Regions from separate parts of the Homo sapiens genome. Here region 2 is linked to region 1. The links come from fine-mapping of genetic effects on gene expression. A gene starts in region 1. The other region holds a variant in brackets. All regions are shown on one strand. Distances are between the middles of the regions.

What was found.
Region 2: its variant is fine-mapped to the expression of AGPAT4 in whole blood (INTERVAL, PIP 0.96).

What each region holds. Positions count from the first base shown.
Region 1 is chr6:161,269,918-161,278,262 of GRCh38, forward strand. AGPAT4 (1-acylglycerol-3-phosphate O-acyltransferase 4) reads right to left here and starts at 4,144. Exons shown (of 9, transcript NM_020133.3): 1 at 4,021-4,144.
Region 2 is chr6:161,211,926-161,220,270 of GRCh38, forward strand. All of the region lies in intron 2 of AGPAT4 (1-acylglycerol-3-phosphate O-acyltransferase 4), which reads right to left. Among named protein-coding and RNA genes, the nearest start is that of AGPAT4-IT1, 54 kb to the left of the region's middle. The variant G/A (reference allele first, on the strand shown) is at 3,917.

The sequences.
Region 1 (8,345 bases):
AATTAGATCGGAGAAACAAGATAACGACAAACAATGAAACCAATGGGAAATCTTTGTGGAGCAAGAGTGTGCCAAGGAAAAGAAGACAGGTAGATGGATTGTTCCATGACAATGTTGAAACAAATTATACTCCTTTTAAGATATTTCCTCTTATTCAGTCATTAGAAGAAAATGGGTATCTGCCAGTCATGGGGTTTCCCTTGTAAACCCATTTGAAAACTATAACTATTTAAACTGTATCTTGTTTTGCTCACAGTTGCATCTGTGGGACCTGACACCTATTAAACACGTAATAAACAGCTGTTGAAGAAAGAGTTCATGCTTTAAGCTTCCTCTTTCCTACAGCCTGGCAGCCACTGCAGACCTTCCCAAGCCCATGCATGAAGCCAGGTTTCAGAGTTCCAGCGCTTCCTTTCCAAACTGATTCTCACACAAAGAATAATGAATTTGAGTTGCCCAAGCTCTAGGAAATGTTACATGATTATTATGATTATATTTCAAAATAGGAGTGATGAAAGGCGTTTCACCAAAGATTTAGAGGTCAAACACCATTCAGAAATGTGAATGTGGGCCAGGCACGGTGGCTCACGCCTGTAATCCCAGCATTCTGGGAGGCCAAGGCAGGTGCATCACCTGAGGTCAGGAGTTCGAGACCAGCCTGGCCAATACAGTGAAATTCTATCTCTACTAAAAATACAAAAAAATAAAAAATAAATTAGCTGGGCGTGGTGCCACATGCTTGTGATCCCAGCTACTCGGGAGGCTGAGGCAGGAGAATCGCTTGAATCCAGGAGGGGGAGGTTGTGGTGAGCCGAGATCACGCCATTGCACTCCAGCCTGGGCGACAGAGCAAGACTTCATCTCAAAAAAAAAATAAATGTGAATGCGGCTTTGTCCCATAACCATCAGACCTCCTTTCCAGAATAAAGGAGACTGCACAAAACGTGTGACATTTACCAAACCCTCATTTGAGCATCCAATAATTTAAAACAATGGCAATGGCAGGAATTATGAAGATGACATTCCGGGTAAGTTCCTGGTTGCGTCTTCCCCAGTTTCATACCTGTTTAAAGTCTAGTGTAAGTCTGGCCTTTCGTTGTTAAGCTGAAGCTAAAAAAGTATTGGATTAGGAAGGATTCTGCCTTCTGTTCAGTCTTCTAACAGTCCTTCTTTTTCTGATTAAGAAAAACTTCTGTCCCCAATTTACATCTACTTATGCTTTCAACCAGCACAGAGTATACCTGCTCTACTTCTATACTAAAGACTGACTTCTCCCTTCTTGGAGTTAAGAACCCTGAACCATGATCCATTTCTTACCATCCACCTTTGCTATCTAAGACACCCTCTCCTTCTTCCCTTGAACCGTCTGCCTCCTCTCCTATAAAGCTTCAGCAGCAGGATGAAGACTCTCTAGTATTCTTCTCATACTAATTGCGTCTCCTTGACTGGCTGTTGCCTCCCCCTTCCTTCCAGCTGGGTGCTCTGCTCTTCTTTTCGCCACCCGTTTGGTGGATTTTAAGCTTGAGAGCACAGACTACAACTGCTGCCTTCTTCACCAACTTCACAGCAGAGCCTTGCAGACAGTAAAATCCCAATAAAATGACGGCTGACTCACCCTCTGGGTGTCACCTCTGTCAGCCTCTTCCATGGGACCCTACGTTTACTTTATACTCACAGCTCCACTTACCTTCCCTAGGCCAAAGCTGCTAACTGCTTTAACCTCTACTCAGCATCTGAATATCAGACAGTGTTTTGTTTGTTTATTGGGTTTGGGTTTTTTGTTGTTTTTGTTTTGGCTGTGCTTCTGAGGAAGTCTTGCTCTTTTTCCTTTCAGTTCTATTCCATTAGGCTTTTTGCTGTGAAATTTTGAATCTGGAAACTCAAGAGAACCGACATCGCAGACTTTGATTTACATGCTGTCAATCTGCTTTGGAAGGTCATGTGGCAAATCTGCCCTTGAGGACCATTTTCAGACAGGAAAAACAGTAATTTCAGCCTGGCTGCTTTTCAGAATTCTTTGCAAACATCAGATGCTCACAATCCAACCGTTTCTCTGTGTACTAACATGTGCTTTTCAAAATGAGTGTCATATTCTTTTTAGTAATACTTTTCTGTGTGTTATGCCCTTTAAATAGTTCTCGTCTTTAACTCCATGTGGCTCTGGTTTGTTTTGTGCCATGCTATTTTGCCCCATTTTCAGGTAACTTTTCTACCTGAATTACTTAGGACCTCTGGATTTATAGCAGATTTGATAAGACATAGATGATAGCATATTTAGATAAGGATCACAGCAAACAGAACCTCACTGAAACCACCCATTCTTCCTGCTTCCACATGGCAGGGTTGCTCAAGGTTTATAAGTAATGATTTTGGCTTTAGCAGCCGGAAGGTATGAGGGCTAAGTGACCTTCACACATGTTTATCTTAAATTATAGATAATTTTAAGAGTCATGAATGGGATTACTACTTATCTATTTTATAAAAGCTAATTATTTGGGATGCCCATCAGAAGAATGGTATCCCTTATCAAACGCTTCCTTAGACGTACTGAATAAAAGCATCAGTTTAGCCGGTACCTGTTAAGAGGCTATGTCTTTCTAAGAGATGTGTTATTTGATTCTAATTATAATTAACTTTGCTTATTACTAAGTAGATAATAATTTTCTCATTTCATATTTTTTCTGAATAACAGTTTTTCTCCCCATAGAGAATATTCAGAAGATGGAATCCTTTTAACGTAGAACTCAAGATGTGCCCTGTTCTCCCTGCCCGCCTCCCATTTCCCTAAACACACACACACACACACACACACACAAACACACACATTCTCCCTTCTCTCAAGATACTTTTTTTCCAACTGAGAGTCGTTGACTAATCACAGATGAGTTAATCCTTCCACAGTTTTGAAAAAGTCTAGCAACCCTCACCTTGAAGAGAGTGAATAGCGTGGCTAATCCATCTAAGAACAATGCACGAAAACGAAAAACGGAGAATCCTGCCCGGCAGTTAATTTGTTACTCATACTTGTTGAACTTAAGATTTGGAGCTAAATAAGTGCAGATGAGAGCAAAGACCCATCTTTTAAATATTTAAGCTTTTAGGCAAACCTGGGCAGGCAATATCACATTTATCAGTGCGAATTCTCCAATGCTCTCTAAAACTTTATTTCAATGATCTCACCTCCTGTAAGGAATTAATTCCCCCTTAGCTTGACCACAGGATCAATATCTTATCTTAAGAAGTGTTTAGGTTTTCTAAAAAAAGACCAGACACTGAAGACTTACATAAACATCAAAGCATTCTTTTTTTAATTCCTCGATATGGAGAAATTCATAGGCCGAAAATTAGGTAAATAGAGAGGTAATTACCAATGCCTGTTTCCTTGACAACTCCCCTCCCCCACCCCTCCTGTGATAGGGAAAAACCAAAATGAAAGTGAGGAGGGGTAGCCACAAGCCATGCTGGATTTTAGCAAACCAAAGCAAGAAGCAGAGCAGAAAGCTGCAAACTAGACACAAAATACAAATAAATCAATGTATATCGGGGCTGCATATTGTGTAGTATTTTTGTGGTTGCCATAGAAACGTCAGCGACGGAAGAACATGTTGCATGACACAAAAGAGAGCAATATGTAATAGGAACATTCCCCCCACCACCACCCCCCGCCCAGCTTCGTCTATAGCAGAGAAAATGCTTTAGCCCCGGGAGGGGGCTGGGTGGGTGGGTAAATGAAGCCAGGAACAGCAGCTTGAAATCACAGCCCAGAAAGGGACGCTCACCCGGCCCAGCACAAAGCGAGGGTCCTTTTGTACCAGCAGAGCCTCTCTTCGCCTCCCTCCAGGCGCCCCCTGCACCTTTCCCCCGCCCGCCTTGCACTCCCCCCCCGCCCCCGGAGCCTACCCCTTCCAGAGGTCCTAAGGAAATCCAGCCCAGGAGAGAAAAATATGCTGGGAAGAGGAATGCAAACATCAGCCACACCCAGCGGGGAAGGTGCCTGCGAACGGCACCAGGACCACATACCTCCTTCCTGGCAGCCTTTGGCACATGGACTTAGAAACCAGAAGCTGAGATGGAGCCGGCTGGGTTCAGAAATTGCCACTAGTTTATAAGAGCTGTAAGTCAGCCAACACTGGAAAGAAAAAGCGAGACTCCACCCATGGGGTGGACCCTTCAGGAAGAAAAAAAAAAAAAAAGTGGTCCTCAGCTGACGTCTCTCCCCACCCATGTCACTTCCTTTTAAAGCTACAAGTTAGCAGTTGCCGAGAGGGAAGAGCGAGCTGGTGTAATATGAGTCACTCCCTTCCCCTTCCAATTAGTGTAAGGCAGTGCTTCAGTTGGCTTCACGTTTGAAATCGCTTTTGAAATCTGGCTCGGGAAGCTGCCAGGATAAAAAAAAAATGAAAGCCCCCTGGAAGTGGCCTTGCTTTCTCTCCCCTTTCTCCCAAATCCTGTTGCATCCCTGCGCCCTAACGGCTCCTCTAACCTCAACCCAGACTCCGGCTCCGTCTGTGTTGCAACCTGGAAATTGTCCTCAGTTGGCTCATTTTTAATTCAGCAAGCGTAGGATCAATATGCCCACCCTCAAAACTCTCCCCTCACCTCTCCTCGGTCCGCTGTGCTGGAAGGAGATTGCGTTGCACTCAGAAGAGTCCAAATCATCTTAAACAAAATAAGCCTCAGCACTCAAGAGATTGAGATGTTATGAAGTGGGATGAAAGAAGCTTGGAGGTCGATTGATGTATTTTCTGTTTTCAAACCTTAGCACCATGGTTGATTACCACTGCACAGGCGTGCACACACGTACTGTCGCATGCTCACATGCACGTGGCATTTACACAGGTGTATCAGAGAGGGTCTGGGCAGACCTTTATAGTAAAAGTGTCTTCACAATTTTTAAAAAGGGTGGGCTGTTGAAAGTCCAGAAATGCCAGGATCTAGAAAATTATTTCAATTTCAAAATACTGAGGTGTATTCCTTTCAAATGTCCACTATTACAGCCATTGTCAAAATAATATTTAACTATTTACTTGACTCCTGGGTTAACCTTGTTCTTTAGATGTTTATAATCTATAAAGGAAAAATACATGTGCTCACAAATAGCCCAAGCACATTGCAGAATTACTAACAGCTATGCAAGTGTCAAAACCAGTGTGTCATGAAGACAGAATAGAAAGTGCTTTTTTGATTGCGATGGGGGAAGGCATTGATCATTCAGGAAACAGGGTTTGGAGTGGGTCCTATGGGAGGTGGCATTTTTCTTGTCTGTGATGAGAGACGGGGAGAGTGAAGCAGAATGTGGTGGAAGAGAAAGGATATGTGAGGCAAACAAAAAAAGGATCAGAACAGAAACCCATTTGTAGCAATAACTTGTTTTAATATCCATGTGAAAATAAATTTGACCACAGAGTAATGCTTATAAAAGATTTTTATAAAAAGTTCCTTGTAGTCATCATCTCTCGTAACTTTTCGAACTATGTTTTACGACCCATGTGCTTCTAGATTTGGTGGAAACTTGAGTTTTTCAAAGTGTTTTTCAAGTAGAGTTACACTGTTTTTCACGGTTGAATTCTGAATGGTAATTTATTTCAAAACCTACAAATTGCATAAATTCCTGATAATGTTATAAGTACAGTCAGTGATTTCAGTGGAAATGATAGGAAATTTAAAATTTGGACAATTGTAACTTTTATCCTGATCTCAGTACTTTAACATCCTCATTCCATTATTACATTACAATTATTATTATACTTATTATTGCTAACACTTTGCCTGTCTAGACAATGTTGCTCAGTCCCAGTTATCTCAGATATAGCTGAGAAATATGGGAGAAAAAGTTACTATTTCTAAAAATTTAACATAGAAATTCAAAATTCATGGATTAAATCCTATGCTTTTTTTTTTGAGACAGAGTCTTGCTCTGTTGCCCAGGCTGGAGTGCAATGATACGATCTCAGCTCACTGCAACCTCCACCTCCTGTGTTCAAGCAATTCTCGTGCTGCAGCCTCCCAAATAGCTGGGATTACAGACATACACTACCACACCCAGCTGATTTTTTGTGTTTTTGGTTGAGACGAAGTTTCACCATGTTGCCCAGGCTGGTCTCTAACTCCTGACCTCAGGTGATCCACCTCCACCTCCCAAAGTGCTGTGATTACAGGCAGGGAGTCACCACGCCCAGCCCTATGCACATTATTGAGTGCCATTTAGAGTCTATCCTTATGTGCCCTTATTTAGCTATTTCTATCTATACAAGGAATTGTGAATATTTCCAGGTCACAACGTAACAACTCAGTTCAATGTATGTTTATTGAGCATCCATGTTAGTTGCTGAAGATACAAAAACACAGATAAGACATGGAAATGGCCCCAAAGTGCTCAAAGTCTTAGAAGGGAAAGCGAAATGTAAACAGTTAAGACACAATGGAGGCAATGATTGACATTTGTACAAGATTCAGAGGTGGTTCGAGAATGGGAAAAGGAGAGGGAGGATACATCTACATAGTTTCTTAGCTAACAGTGGACTCTAAAAGGGGTGGAGGTGGACAGTATACTCATCCGTGAGATGGTAAGAAATAAATACTGGCAGTTGGAGAGAGGAGAAAAAAATTGAAAAGGAGACACAAATCATAAATTGGTAACCTAAAAAAGATATATAAGTGGTCCGTAAACAAAGAGGCAACCTTACATAAAAATACAAGTCACAAAGTAAGGATGTTATTTCTTTGCCTAGTCACTTGTCCAACACTCAAAAAGCTAGAACGTGCAGTGCAGAGAATGCAATGCCATGGGTTCTCTCTTCTGCTGGTGATGGCAAATTGATACAATCTCTGGAATTCAATTAAAGAAGATTTTTCATGAGCCTTTAAAATGTTCATACCCCTTAATCCAATAATTCGACTCAGAATAATTTATACCAAGGACATAAGCAGAGATAAATTCAAAGATTTGGGAACATGTATATTCATCAGAGCCATTTATAATAGTAAAGTCTGGAAACCATCTGAGTGTTTGAAGTAGCAGGTTAGCTATGGAAATGATGTAATCTTCATATGATGAAACACTCTACAAAAAATTAAAATTCTGTGTTTGAAAGACCTAGGGAAATTCATGGTATCTTAAGTGTAAAGGGAACTAAGCTTTATATAAATTATGGTCCCGTTTTCGTGATTCTATAAATATATATTACAGTGTGTGTAGTGGGTTGAATAAGTGTCCCCCAGTGTCCCCCACAAATTCATGTTCACCCAGAACCTCACAATATGAATTTGTTTAGAAACAGAGTCTTTGCAGATGTTAATCAGCTGAGACGAAGTCATTCTGGATTAGGATGGGCTATAGACCCAATACCTGGTGTCCTTATAAAAAGAGGAGAGGATGCAGAAAGACACACACATAGAATAAGGCCATGTGATGGCGGAGGTAGAGATGGGAATGATGTGTCTATGAATCAAAGATTGCTGGCAAACACCAGAAACCAGGAGAGACGCATGGAACAGACTCTCTGAGAGCCTCCAGAAGGACCCAACCCTGCTGATGCCTTAATTTTAGATTCCTGGCCTCGTGAACTGTAAGAGAATAAATTTCTGTTGTTTTAAGTCACACAGTTTGTGCTAATTTGTGATGGCAGCTCTGGGAAACTTAATGCAGTGTGATGAAGATCATGAAACTGTTAATAATCATTACTTCTGGAGAGTGAGATTGAGGATGATTTTTATTTGCTTCTTTATATGTGATTGCACTTTGGAGAACTTTCTACAATGGATGAACACGTGTGACTTTTACAGTAACAAGATTAGGACTAAAAACCAAATAACCTAGGTTTCTGAAACTGTTTCTGCAATTTAGAACAGACATAAACAATAATCAGTGATGCTTACGACACGGTGAGTCCTGAGGAGTAACATATTTTCAAAGCCCAGTGAGAGGTAGAATTCTGCATATCTCAGAAACTTCTTTAAACCTAAGTTTTGGTACTTAAAATGATAACTATCACTTATCTGAAATGTGAACTTACACACTATGTATTAACTGTTGTGCTAGATAGTGGAGTCACTGATGGCATTGTTACAAATTGCCCATTCTGTTAGCACAATGTTATTACACATTAACAGTATTTTTGCTTTATTTCCACTTGCCTCGTGTTGTGAACATTGATACAACATCCACACAAACCTATACACTGAGTTTAAAAATGTTCTCAAGTTATACAATATGAAGATATAGATTTGCAACTATGATGACCTCATTATGTGCTACATTGGAAATTGTGGCTGCTTAGAGGAGACAAAGGAAAATTGTAAATGCTAAAGTTAATTTGATATTTGGGGTCTATAATCTTATATTT
Region 2 (8,345 bases), 58 kb before region 1:
ATTTCAACTCAAGGCCCAGAGAGTATTGTGGAAGAGGTGGGTGCATGAGATTGTAAAGGTCGATTTTGAAAGATAAAATAAGTTCAGTTTCTCTATAAATTAATCATTAATGTTGAAGGGCACACTGATGCAAGACTAGCATATGGGCCCCTGTGTCAAATTAACAAAGTTTTCTTGAAGCATTAACTGACTCCTCAGTAAATGTTATAAAGGTTATAAAAGGCTTATGGAAGCTGTATCTTATGGTCAAGATTAAAATTTTATAGATTGTTTACAAAATTTTGAAAAACAAATTTAAATGACTTTGTGCTATTTTTATTAGGGCTTATTGTTTGGAACATTAAGTCTCCTCTCTCAAAGAATGAAGATGTTTGCCTTTTTTGAAATCCTTGAGTTATCACTTTAGTTAAATGAATGACCCTATTTTATGATATCAATAGTATTAAACCTTTGTTATTTGACAAACTTGCCAAAATCAAATTATAAATTATGTCTTTTTCTTACCTAATTAATCCTTTAAGACATTAGATTCCCTAAAGTCCAAAAGTGACATAATTTGGCTTATCTGGTATAAAAATTATACAGGAAACATTGTCAAATACGAAATGGTGTTTGGTTTCCTTTAGGTTGTATTTGTATAAATATGTTATTGGTATGTGTTCCAAAATCAGGGTAAACTCCTGTAATTCTAATATGACTTAATGTACATTTTCAGTGATAATTATAATTTTTATGTTAAATTGTTAGTGTGCCACAAGGTAACAAATTTCCTTGTCAATTGTGTCTTTCACTATGGCTACCCTAATACATTTTGTCATCCATGGACAATTGTCTTGTTTTGGTCCTCCTTAGAAGGTGGTTTTATAATCAGCTATAGAACTCTAACAGGTGTTCTTAAATGCAGGTTTCTGATAACTAACTTATAACAATACAGTTATTTGCATAAGTGCAGTAAGAATCAATTTTCACTGTAACAGGCCACAATCAGAGAAACTGTTTATTTTACCAAGACTTTGACTGTAATGGTGTGCTTTCCTTTAAGGAATCAAACTTGACTTATGAAGCCAATAAAAACCCCTTGGAAAAAACTGGCCTCATACCTTTGTCTACACAGCCCCTGCACAGGGTTCCTGACCTGTGGTAGGTAAACAATGTCACTTTCTGGCAGGTCCAGGAGCCTCAAGTTTATCTTGGAACCTCAAGAGGAGCTGATCACCCAACTCATAGGTATTTGATGGCACAAATCCATGGCTGGGCTCGGCTTTAAAAAAGTCTTATCTGAGATTCCTCCTATGGAACACAGTTCCATCAAAGCCAATTTAAAAGCCTTTGTAAAAATAATTATTCTTGCTGCACTGTATACAAATAATTAGGCCAAGTATAATAAAGCAAACCAGTCCTACCATGATTTGTCTTTAGTAAAAATGGGAAACTGAAGAGAGAATAATTATGCTTCAAAACTATAGTACACCTGTTGTTAGATTCTAGTTTTATCTTACATTTTTCAATTTTTATTATTTTCTACAGTTTGGACTGAATTCTAAGTTTTCTGGGCTACAAGTCTTCAAAATAATGTTTTCAATTTTTTGTTCCTTCCTTTTTTTCCCAATTTTTCCTAATTTGGAGTCACTGAAAACTAAGCTGTGCTTTTGTAAAGCCCTGTGAACTGAAGCCAGACAACTTAAACTTCAAAAGAAAATGACAACAATCTATTTACATACATAAGCCACTTTCATACCTGCCTACTGATGTATGGGCTTCAGAGTAATGTGGCCTATATTGATTTTTCCAGGATTGTTCTTTTGCTTGTTGTTGTTTGTCTTCCTTCCTCTATTTTCTCTTCATAGAATAACCTTATAAAAATGAGTTTTCCTAATAACTTAGATCCTACCTGTCTAGGAATAAGCCATCCTAGTCATGAGAGATCAGACAAAACCTGGGAACAGAGACTCATCTTCTTCTAAAATGCTTTCTCCAAAAAAATTTTTTAAAGTGGGGGTGGGGGTGTTGGGGAATGTGAAAGGAAAATATCTTAGGCCCCCAAAATCACTTAAAGGGAAAATTCAAGCTGGGAACTGTTTAGGGCAAACGTGCCACCCATTCTATTCAAAGGCATCCCTCTGCTCACTGAGATAAATGCATATCTTACTGCCTCCTTTGGAGAGGCTCATCAGAAACTCAAAAGAATGCTACCATTTGTCTCTCACCTACCTGTGACCTGGAAGCCCCTCTCCTTCGAGTTGTCCTGCCTTTCCAGACCAAACCAATGTTCATGTTACATCTGTTGATTGATGTCTCGTGTCTCTCTAAAATGTATAAAACCAAGCTGTGCTTTGACCACCTGGGCACATGTTGTCAGGACCTCCTGAGGCTGTGTCACAGGCACACATCCTCAACCTTGACAAAATAAACTTTCTAAATTTACTGAGGCCTGTCTCAAATTTTGGGGGTTTCAGAAGCCTGTTGCTCCTAGGCTGCTCACCTGTACAGCATGTGACTGTACTGAATACTGTAGGTCACTGTAACACAATGGTAACTATTTGTGTATCTAAACATAGGGCTGGGCATGGTGGCTCATGCCTGTAATCCCAGCCCTTTGGGAGGTCAAGGCAGGCGGATCAATTGAAGTCAGGAGTTCGAGACCAGCCTAGCCAACATGGTGAAACCCCGTCTCTACTAAAAGATACAAAAAAATTAGCTGGGCATGGTGGCACACACCTGTAGTCCCAGCTACTCGGGAGGCTGAGGCAGGAGAATCACTTGAACCCAGGAGGCAAAGGTTGCAGTGAGCCGAGATCGTGCCACTGCACTCTAGCCTGGGTGACAGAGGAAGACTCCGTCTCAAAATAAATAAATAAATAAATAATAAAATAAACATAGAAAAGGCACAGCAAAAATACTGTATTACAATCTTAGCAGACACCGTTGTAAATGTGGTCTACTGCCTGAAAAGTCATTATGGGGCACGTGACTATATTTCAAAACTATCTACGTTGACCTCCAAACCTGTTCTGCTGGCCTGCCTTAGATAAGACTGAGACAAAGGCAACAGGCCCATCTGCAGTTTCAAAAAATCAGACCATATCCAGCTTCATACTAACAATTTTTTCTTTGGTAGGACTACAAGCTATGTTTTTTATGTGACATTTTAAATACTTATTTAAATACCCCATAGAGACTGTCTAGATGCTTCACATTTCTATAGGCTTGAGTACAATTTTAATACTATTACAAGAGTCTTCACAATTTGGCAAGCTACATTAATGACCCTATTTAACTTATGATCCTACTCTTCCATAACTCATACACTGCATGTGTTGTAATCTGTTGCCTAGTTAGCAAATGTTTCTGTAGAATTAAGCTTCCCCGTATCTGTGGGTTGAAAATGTTTACACATCCCAGCGGACATATTTGTGCTGAATCTCAAGGTTTTTGAGGCCATGGCTCATTCCTTCTCTGCCATTTCCCATACTCTTGGATTTACAAAACATACGCATATACCCAGCAAACACAGACTGACAGTGACTCACCCTGATCTCATGCTCGGTAATCAGGTTCAGATATCCTGGTCCTTCAGCATGAGTGTGGTTCTCAGGTCTGTCTCTCTGGCACACATTACAGGCAAAACCCATATTTTAAATGTATAACAAGCTCTTTTTGAACCTAAAACATTCTAGTCTTTATATTCTGAAGCCTAGCACATGCTTGAAACACTGATATCCTTGCAGTGGCTGAGGGGTATATCTGCTTGAACCACACAGTAGAATAACCTCCCTTACCATAAAAAAAAAAAAAAAGAAAACACAAAAACACAAGATCCAAGTTTCCTGTTGATAGCTCAAACTCTAAAAGTCCTACCAGCCACCAACCCATTGTAATTTCTCCTTTTTAGGTAGATATACCCATTATTTTATTC[G/A]TAATACAGCATTACCTTTCAAACTATACATCAAATTGAGTAGAGCAGACATAGTCAAGTTTATCTATGCCGGCAAGCAAAACTCTTCGCATGCACCCTGCCATGAAGGGCTATCAAACCTCCTCTGCCCCTAGAGCTGGAAAGCTGTCCAGGCTCACACATACTTGCCTCTCTTAACCGCACCATGTCCAGTTGACGAGGATTAAAGAAAACAAACAAAAAATACCTTTCAGCTAAAGCCAGATTTGTGAGGCTGCCAAGAGCACTTTTCCCTCCTGCCTTGACAAGGCTTCTTCATAGTCTGACAAAGGAGACTAACACTCTTAGACACAAATACAAGTTGGAGATGTCTCTGAAAGGGTTCTGAACCCACGTTGGGGTTGGGTGGGAATAACTCAATGGATGACTGAAGCAAAGGGTCAATGCTTTCAGGGCTCTCAGAGTAAAGCCATGAAACAGAATAGGCAACAGCAGCCCCAGTCTCTTCTGTCCTCAAGCAAACGTCTGCAACAAGTGCGTCTCTTGTCCAGGATGACAGACAACCTCTGCAACTGCCTTCTACAATCTTCAGGCTCACTCTCCTCAGGACAGTGAAACGCTTCCGGGCAATCGTTCTTTCCTCATTCTTTCCCAACTTCCTCCCTGGGCTCCACTGTGGAAACCAAAATGCTGGGGCAGCATCAGCCCCGACGCCCCAGGCCCCACCCCAGCACTCTCTTAATTCAGATGATTTTCCCCAGTGTCCGTTTTCACACTGCTGCTGAAGACATGCCCGAAACGAAACCAAAAAAGGTTTAAAAGGTTTAATTGGACTTACAGTTCCACATGGCTGAGGAGTTCTCACAATCATGGTGGGAGGCGAAAGGCTCTTCTTAAGCAGCGACAGCAAGAGAAAATGAGAAAGAAGCAAAAGCGGAGACCCCTGATAAACCCATCAGATCTCGTGAGACTTACTATCACGAGACTAGCACGAGAAAAACTGGCCCTCATGATTCAACTACCTCCTCTTAGGTCCCTCCCACAATACGTGGGAATTCTGGGAGATACAATTCAAGTTGAGATTTCGGTGGGGACACAGCCAAACCTATCACCCAGTAATCCCTGCTTCTGTCTTAATTTGACTTTCCCCTCACACGTGGCTCTGATTCACCTTTGCTCACCTGCTGATGCGGTTCTCATGTTACACGTGTTCTTCACCTTCAGGCTTTCCTGTCCTTGTCAATTTCCGTTTAGGTGTTTTATCATTAGGGCCTGACTCCGCGTTTCAGCAATGAAAGATGAGCAGACAGTGGAGAAGGCAAGCCAGGGGAGGGGCGGAGTGAGCACAGGCGTGGGGACGCGAAAGGACAGGGGAACACCGGAGAACTCGGTCATCCGCTTGGGAGCCAGGGACATGCTGAGCTGGAAAACCTAGCCTTGGGTCAGAACTGGGCTCCCATCAATGCCTGGTACATGGTAACAGAAGGTGCTCAATAGATGTCTACCAAGTTGAATGAAAGGGCATCTCACTGTTTGAGCGTGCTTTAAAAAGCCTTATGGTGTGTCAGATGGAGGACGCATTGGGAGAGGCTGTGGTGGAGACCTGTGTTAACAGCCTGTCACAACGTTGCAGGCGATATCCAAGCCCAAAAGACATGCTTCTCCCTGTGTGTCCCTGGGGGAGTCCATCAGGTGCATGGTAATCCAGTATGAAGGCATTGGCGTTATGCCTGCATTTTCTCTCACTAATCATGTTCAGCTCTAGTTGGAGACATAGGTATATATAATCTGTTCCTTTCCATTTAAAGAAATTGGCTACTGGTGTAGAAATTGTACATGAACAATCTCATTTATGAACATCATAATTACCCTGGTGAAAGGACTGGCTGGGAGAGGCATGGCATATTCAGAAATCCTCAAAGCCCTGGAATTGGATCAGGGAGTCCAGCCAGAAACCTCCTCCCCTGACCCCGCCTGCCCAGGCCACTGCCCTGGGACAGGACTCACAGGCAGCACAGCTGGTGCCTCTGCTCCCGCGGGGCCCTGCACACACCAGCTCTGGGTTTGTTCTTGTTTGGATAACATGCAGAACTCACCATCACTAGACTGTGACTGGGTTGAAGGACAAGGTCTCTTCCTCATCTCCCAACTCACCTTGTAGCGTAGAGCATGTTCTATGTGATGCCTGCAAAGACCAATTGAACACGTATGCATTCACCGGGAATGCCCTGTGATGGCTGGTGTCTGTGTCTGATGAGTTGGTGCCTTGTTCTTCTGGCAAGAGAACCACATGCCCTGGGGTGGACATACAACCTGCACAAGATGACTGTAGCTCTCTACCCCCGTCCACAGTGACGGTGCCAATGGTGCTGTGCTGGAAAATGGTTAACAACCAGCTCTTGTGTGGCAGGGGAGGCAGTAGGTGGGAGGAAAAAAAGCCCTGATTTATAGTTCTGCCGATTTCTATGGTGCAAATATTCCCACAAATGTCAGTGCCAAGCTATCTATATGAAATCAATGAAGAAGAAGTTGGGAAGAGATTACCAAATTACCAGAGCTCCCTTTTAAAACATGCACGACTCCCTCTGCTGGCATGATGGTCTGACTAAGTGGGGAAATCACAGCAAGAATACCTTTACTTTACGTTTGTCTAGCACCTTACAATTTATTTCCCTCATCTTACAATTAAAAAACCAAACCCAGGTAAGTTGACTGTGTCACCAAGGTGGTTAGGCCACTGTTCAGAAGCCAAGACTCCAGGCTCCAAGTGCGTGTTACCATAACACCGGGGCAGGATCCTCCGCTCCACGGCCCTAGCACAGTGTATCCACATCAAATCTACTCAAAAACAGCCACTTGGAAGCTATAAAGGGAGCCATAAGGATGCTAGAAAATAACTGCTGTCCTCAACACTTTCCATATCATGTAACCATATACTCTGAGGTGGCAGAGGTGAAAAAACACTGTTATCTACCAAACAGTATGATAAAACACTGTATCTACCAAACAGTATGATAAAACACTGTATCTACCAAACAGTATGATAAAACACTGTATCTACCAAACAGTATGATAAAACACTGTATCTACCAAAGCGTTTCTAGGATTTTTCCTTCAAAACAGACTGTGGAATTGGAGAATACTTTTAATCTAATATTTTCCCTCCTTTCAGGAGAACCAGAATAGGACCAGAGAAGGGAGTTCTCAAAATGTTTGACAATGCCTCAGATCCCATCTGGGCCCAAGATAAACTGAAATAGAGAAAAATACAAAAATATTTTTTGCCATTAGGATTTCCTTGCTTTAGAGCTTGTTTTCATAAAACTATTTCCCCCTTACTTTAAGTGTGCTATATAAATTCTATCTCCAGTATGGTGAAACCAAAACCCATAGCTAAGGCAGTGGTCTTTCAATGTTTTTGATTCCTTAAAAAAAAAATTAAATATGCACCATTAGCATATACAACTTTTATATATGTAAAATTTGTATTTTATATAATTTAAAAAATATATAAAATGTCCTATCCAGACATTTATGATATGATAGAATATGATGGCATGATACGAGATGAGATAAAAGGAACATAAATAGAAGCTCTCAGGTTTGTTTTTTCTATACCCCAATGGCTTGTCTTGTTTACCTCCTGGAAATATCCACTGCACCATGAAGACCACACACGATCGCCTTATAACCTTACAAGACACCAAAGTCAAACTCACAACCTAATTTAAAAGCCGTAACTTAAGTCAGAAGTGAAATTTAATGCTTCCAAAAACAAATGGGCACTTTGCGAATTAATTTATTTATAAACCATATGAATAGCTAAGACAACTTGACTTAAGCCAAGCATCCATTCATACAATTCAGTATCACATGTGTATTCCTAAACTTGCTGATTCTTTAGGGCCACCTGTTTGAAATTTAGAGTGACTAAATTCCCTATTTAAAACGTAAGGTCATTTCTTGTACCAGGGACACAGATTCACAGTAAAAAAGATAGACAGAGATAGATAGATAGATAGATAGATAGATAGATAGATAGATAGATAGATAGGCAGGCAGGCAGGCAGGCAGGCAGGCAGGCAGGCAGGCAGGCGGCAGGCAGGCAGGCAGGCAGGCAGGCAGGCAGACAGACAGACAGACAGACAGGCAGGCAGATAGATACATTTAAAAAATAAATGGATTATTACTCAAAATACACAAGGCTTGCTATCACAGTTACATTATTCCTGTTAAAAAACTTAGAACTCCAGTGTCCTTGCTTATCACTCTCCATTGAATCAGCTTCATGAGACTGATTCATTTGGATATTTAATGTGCTTCCAATCACCAGGTATGTCAGCCACACAGCCTGCGCTATCACCAGATGACCTGAGCTAATAACACACTAATGTCATCATCAGACCTCATTCCTAATACCTCCTTCTTTCTCCTAAATAAACAAAAATGT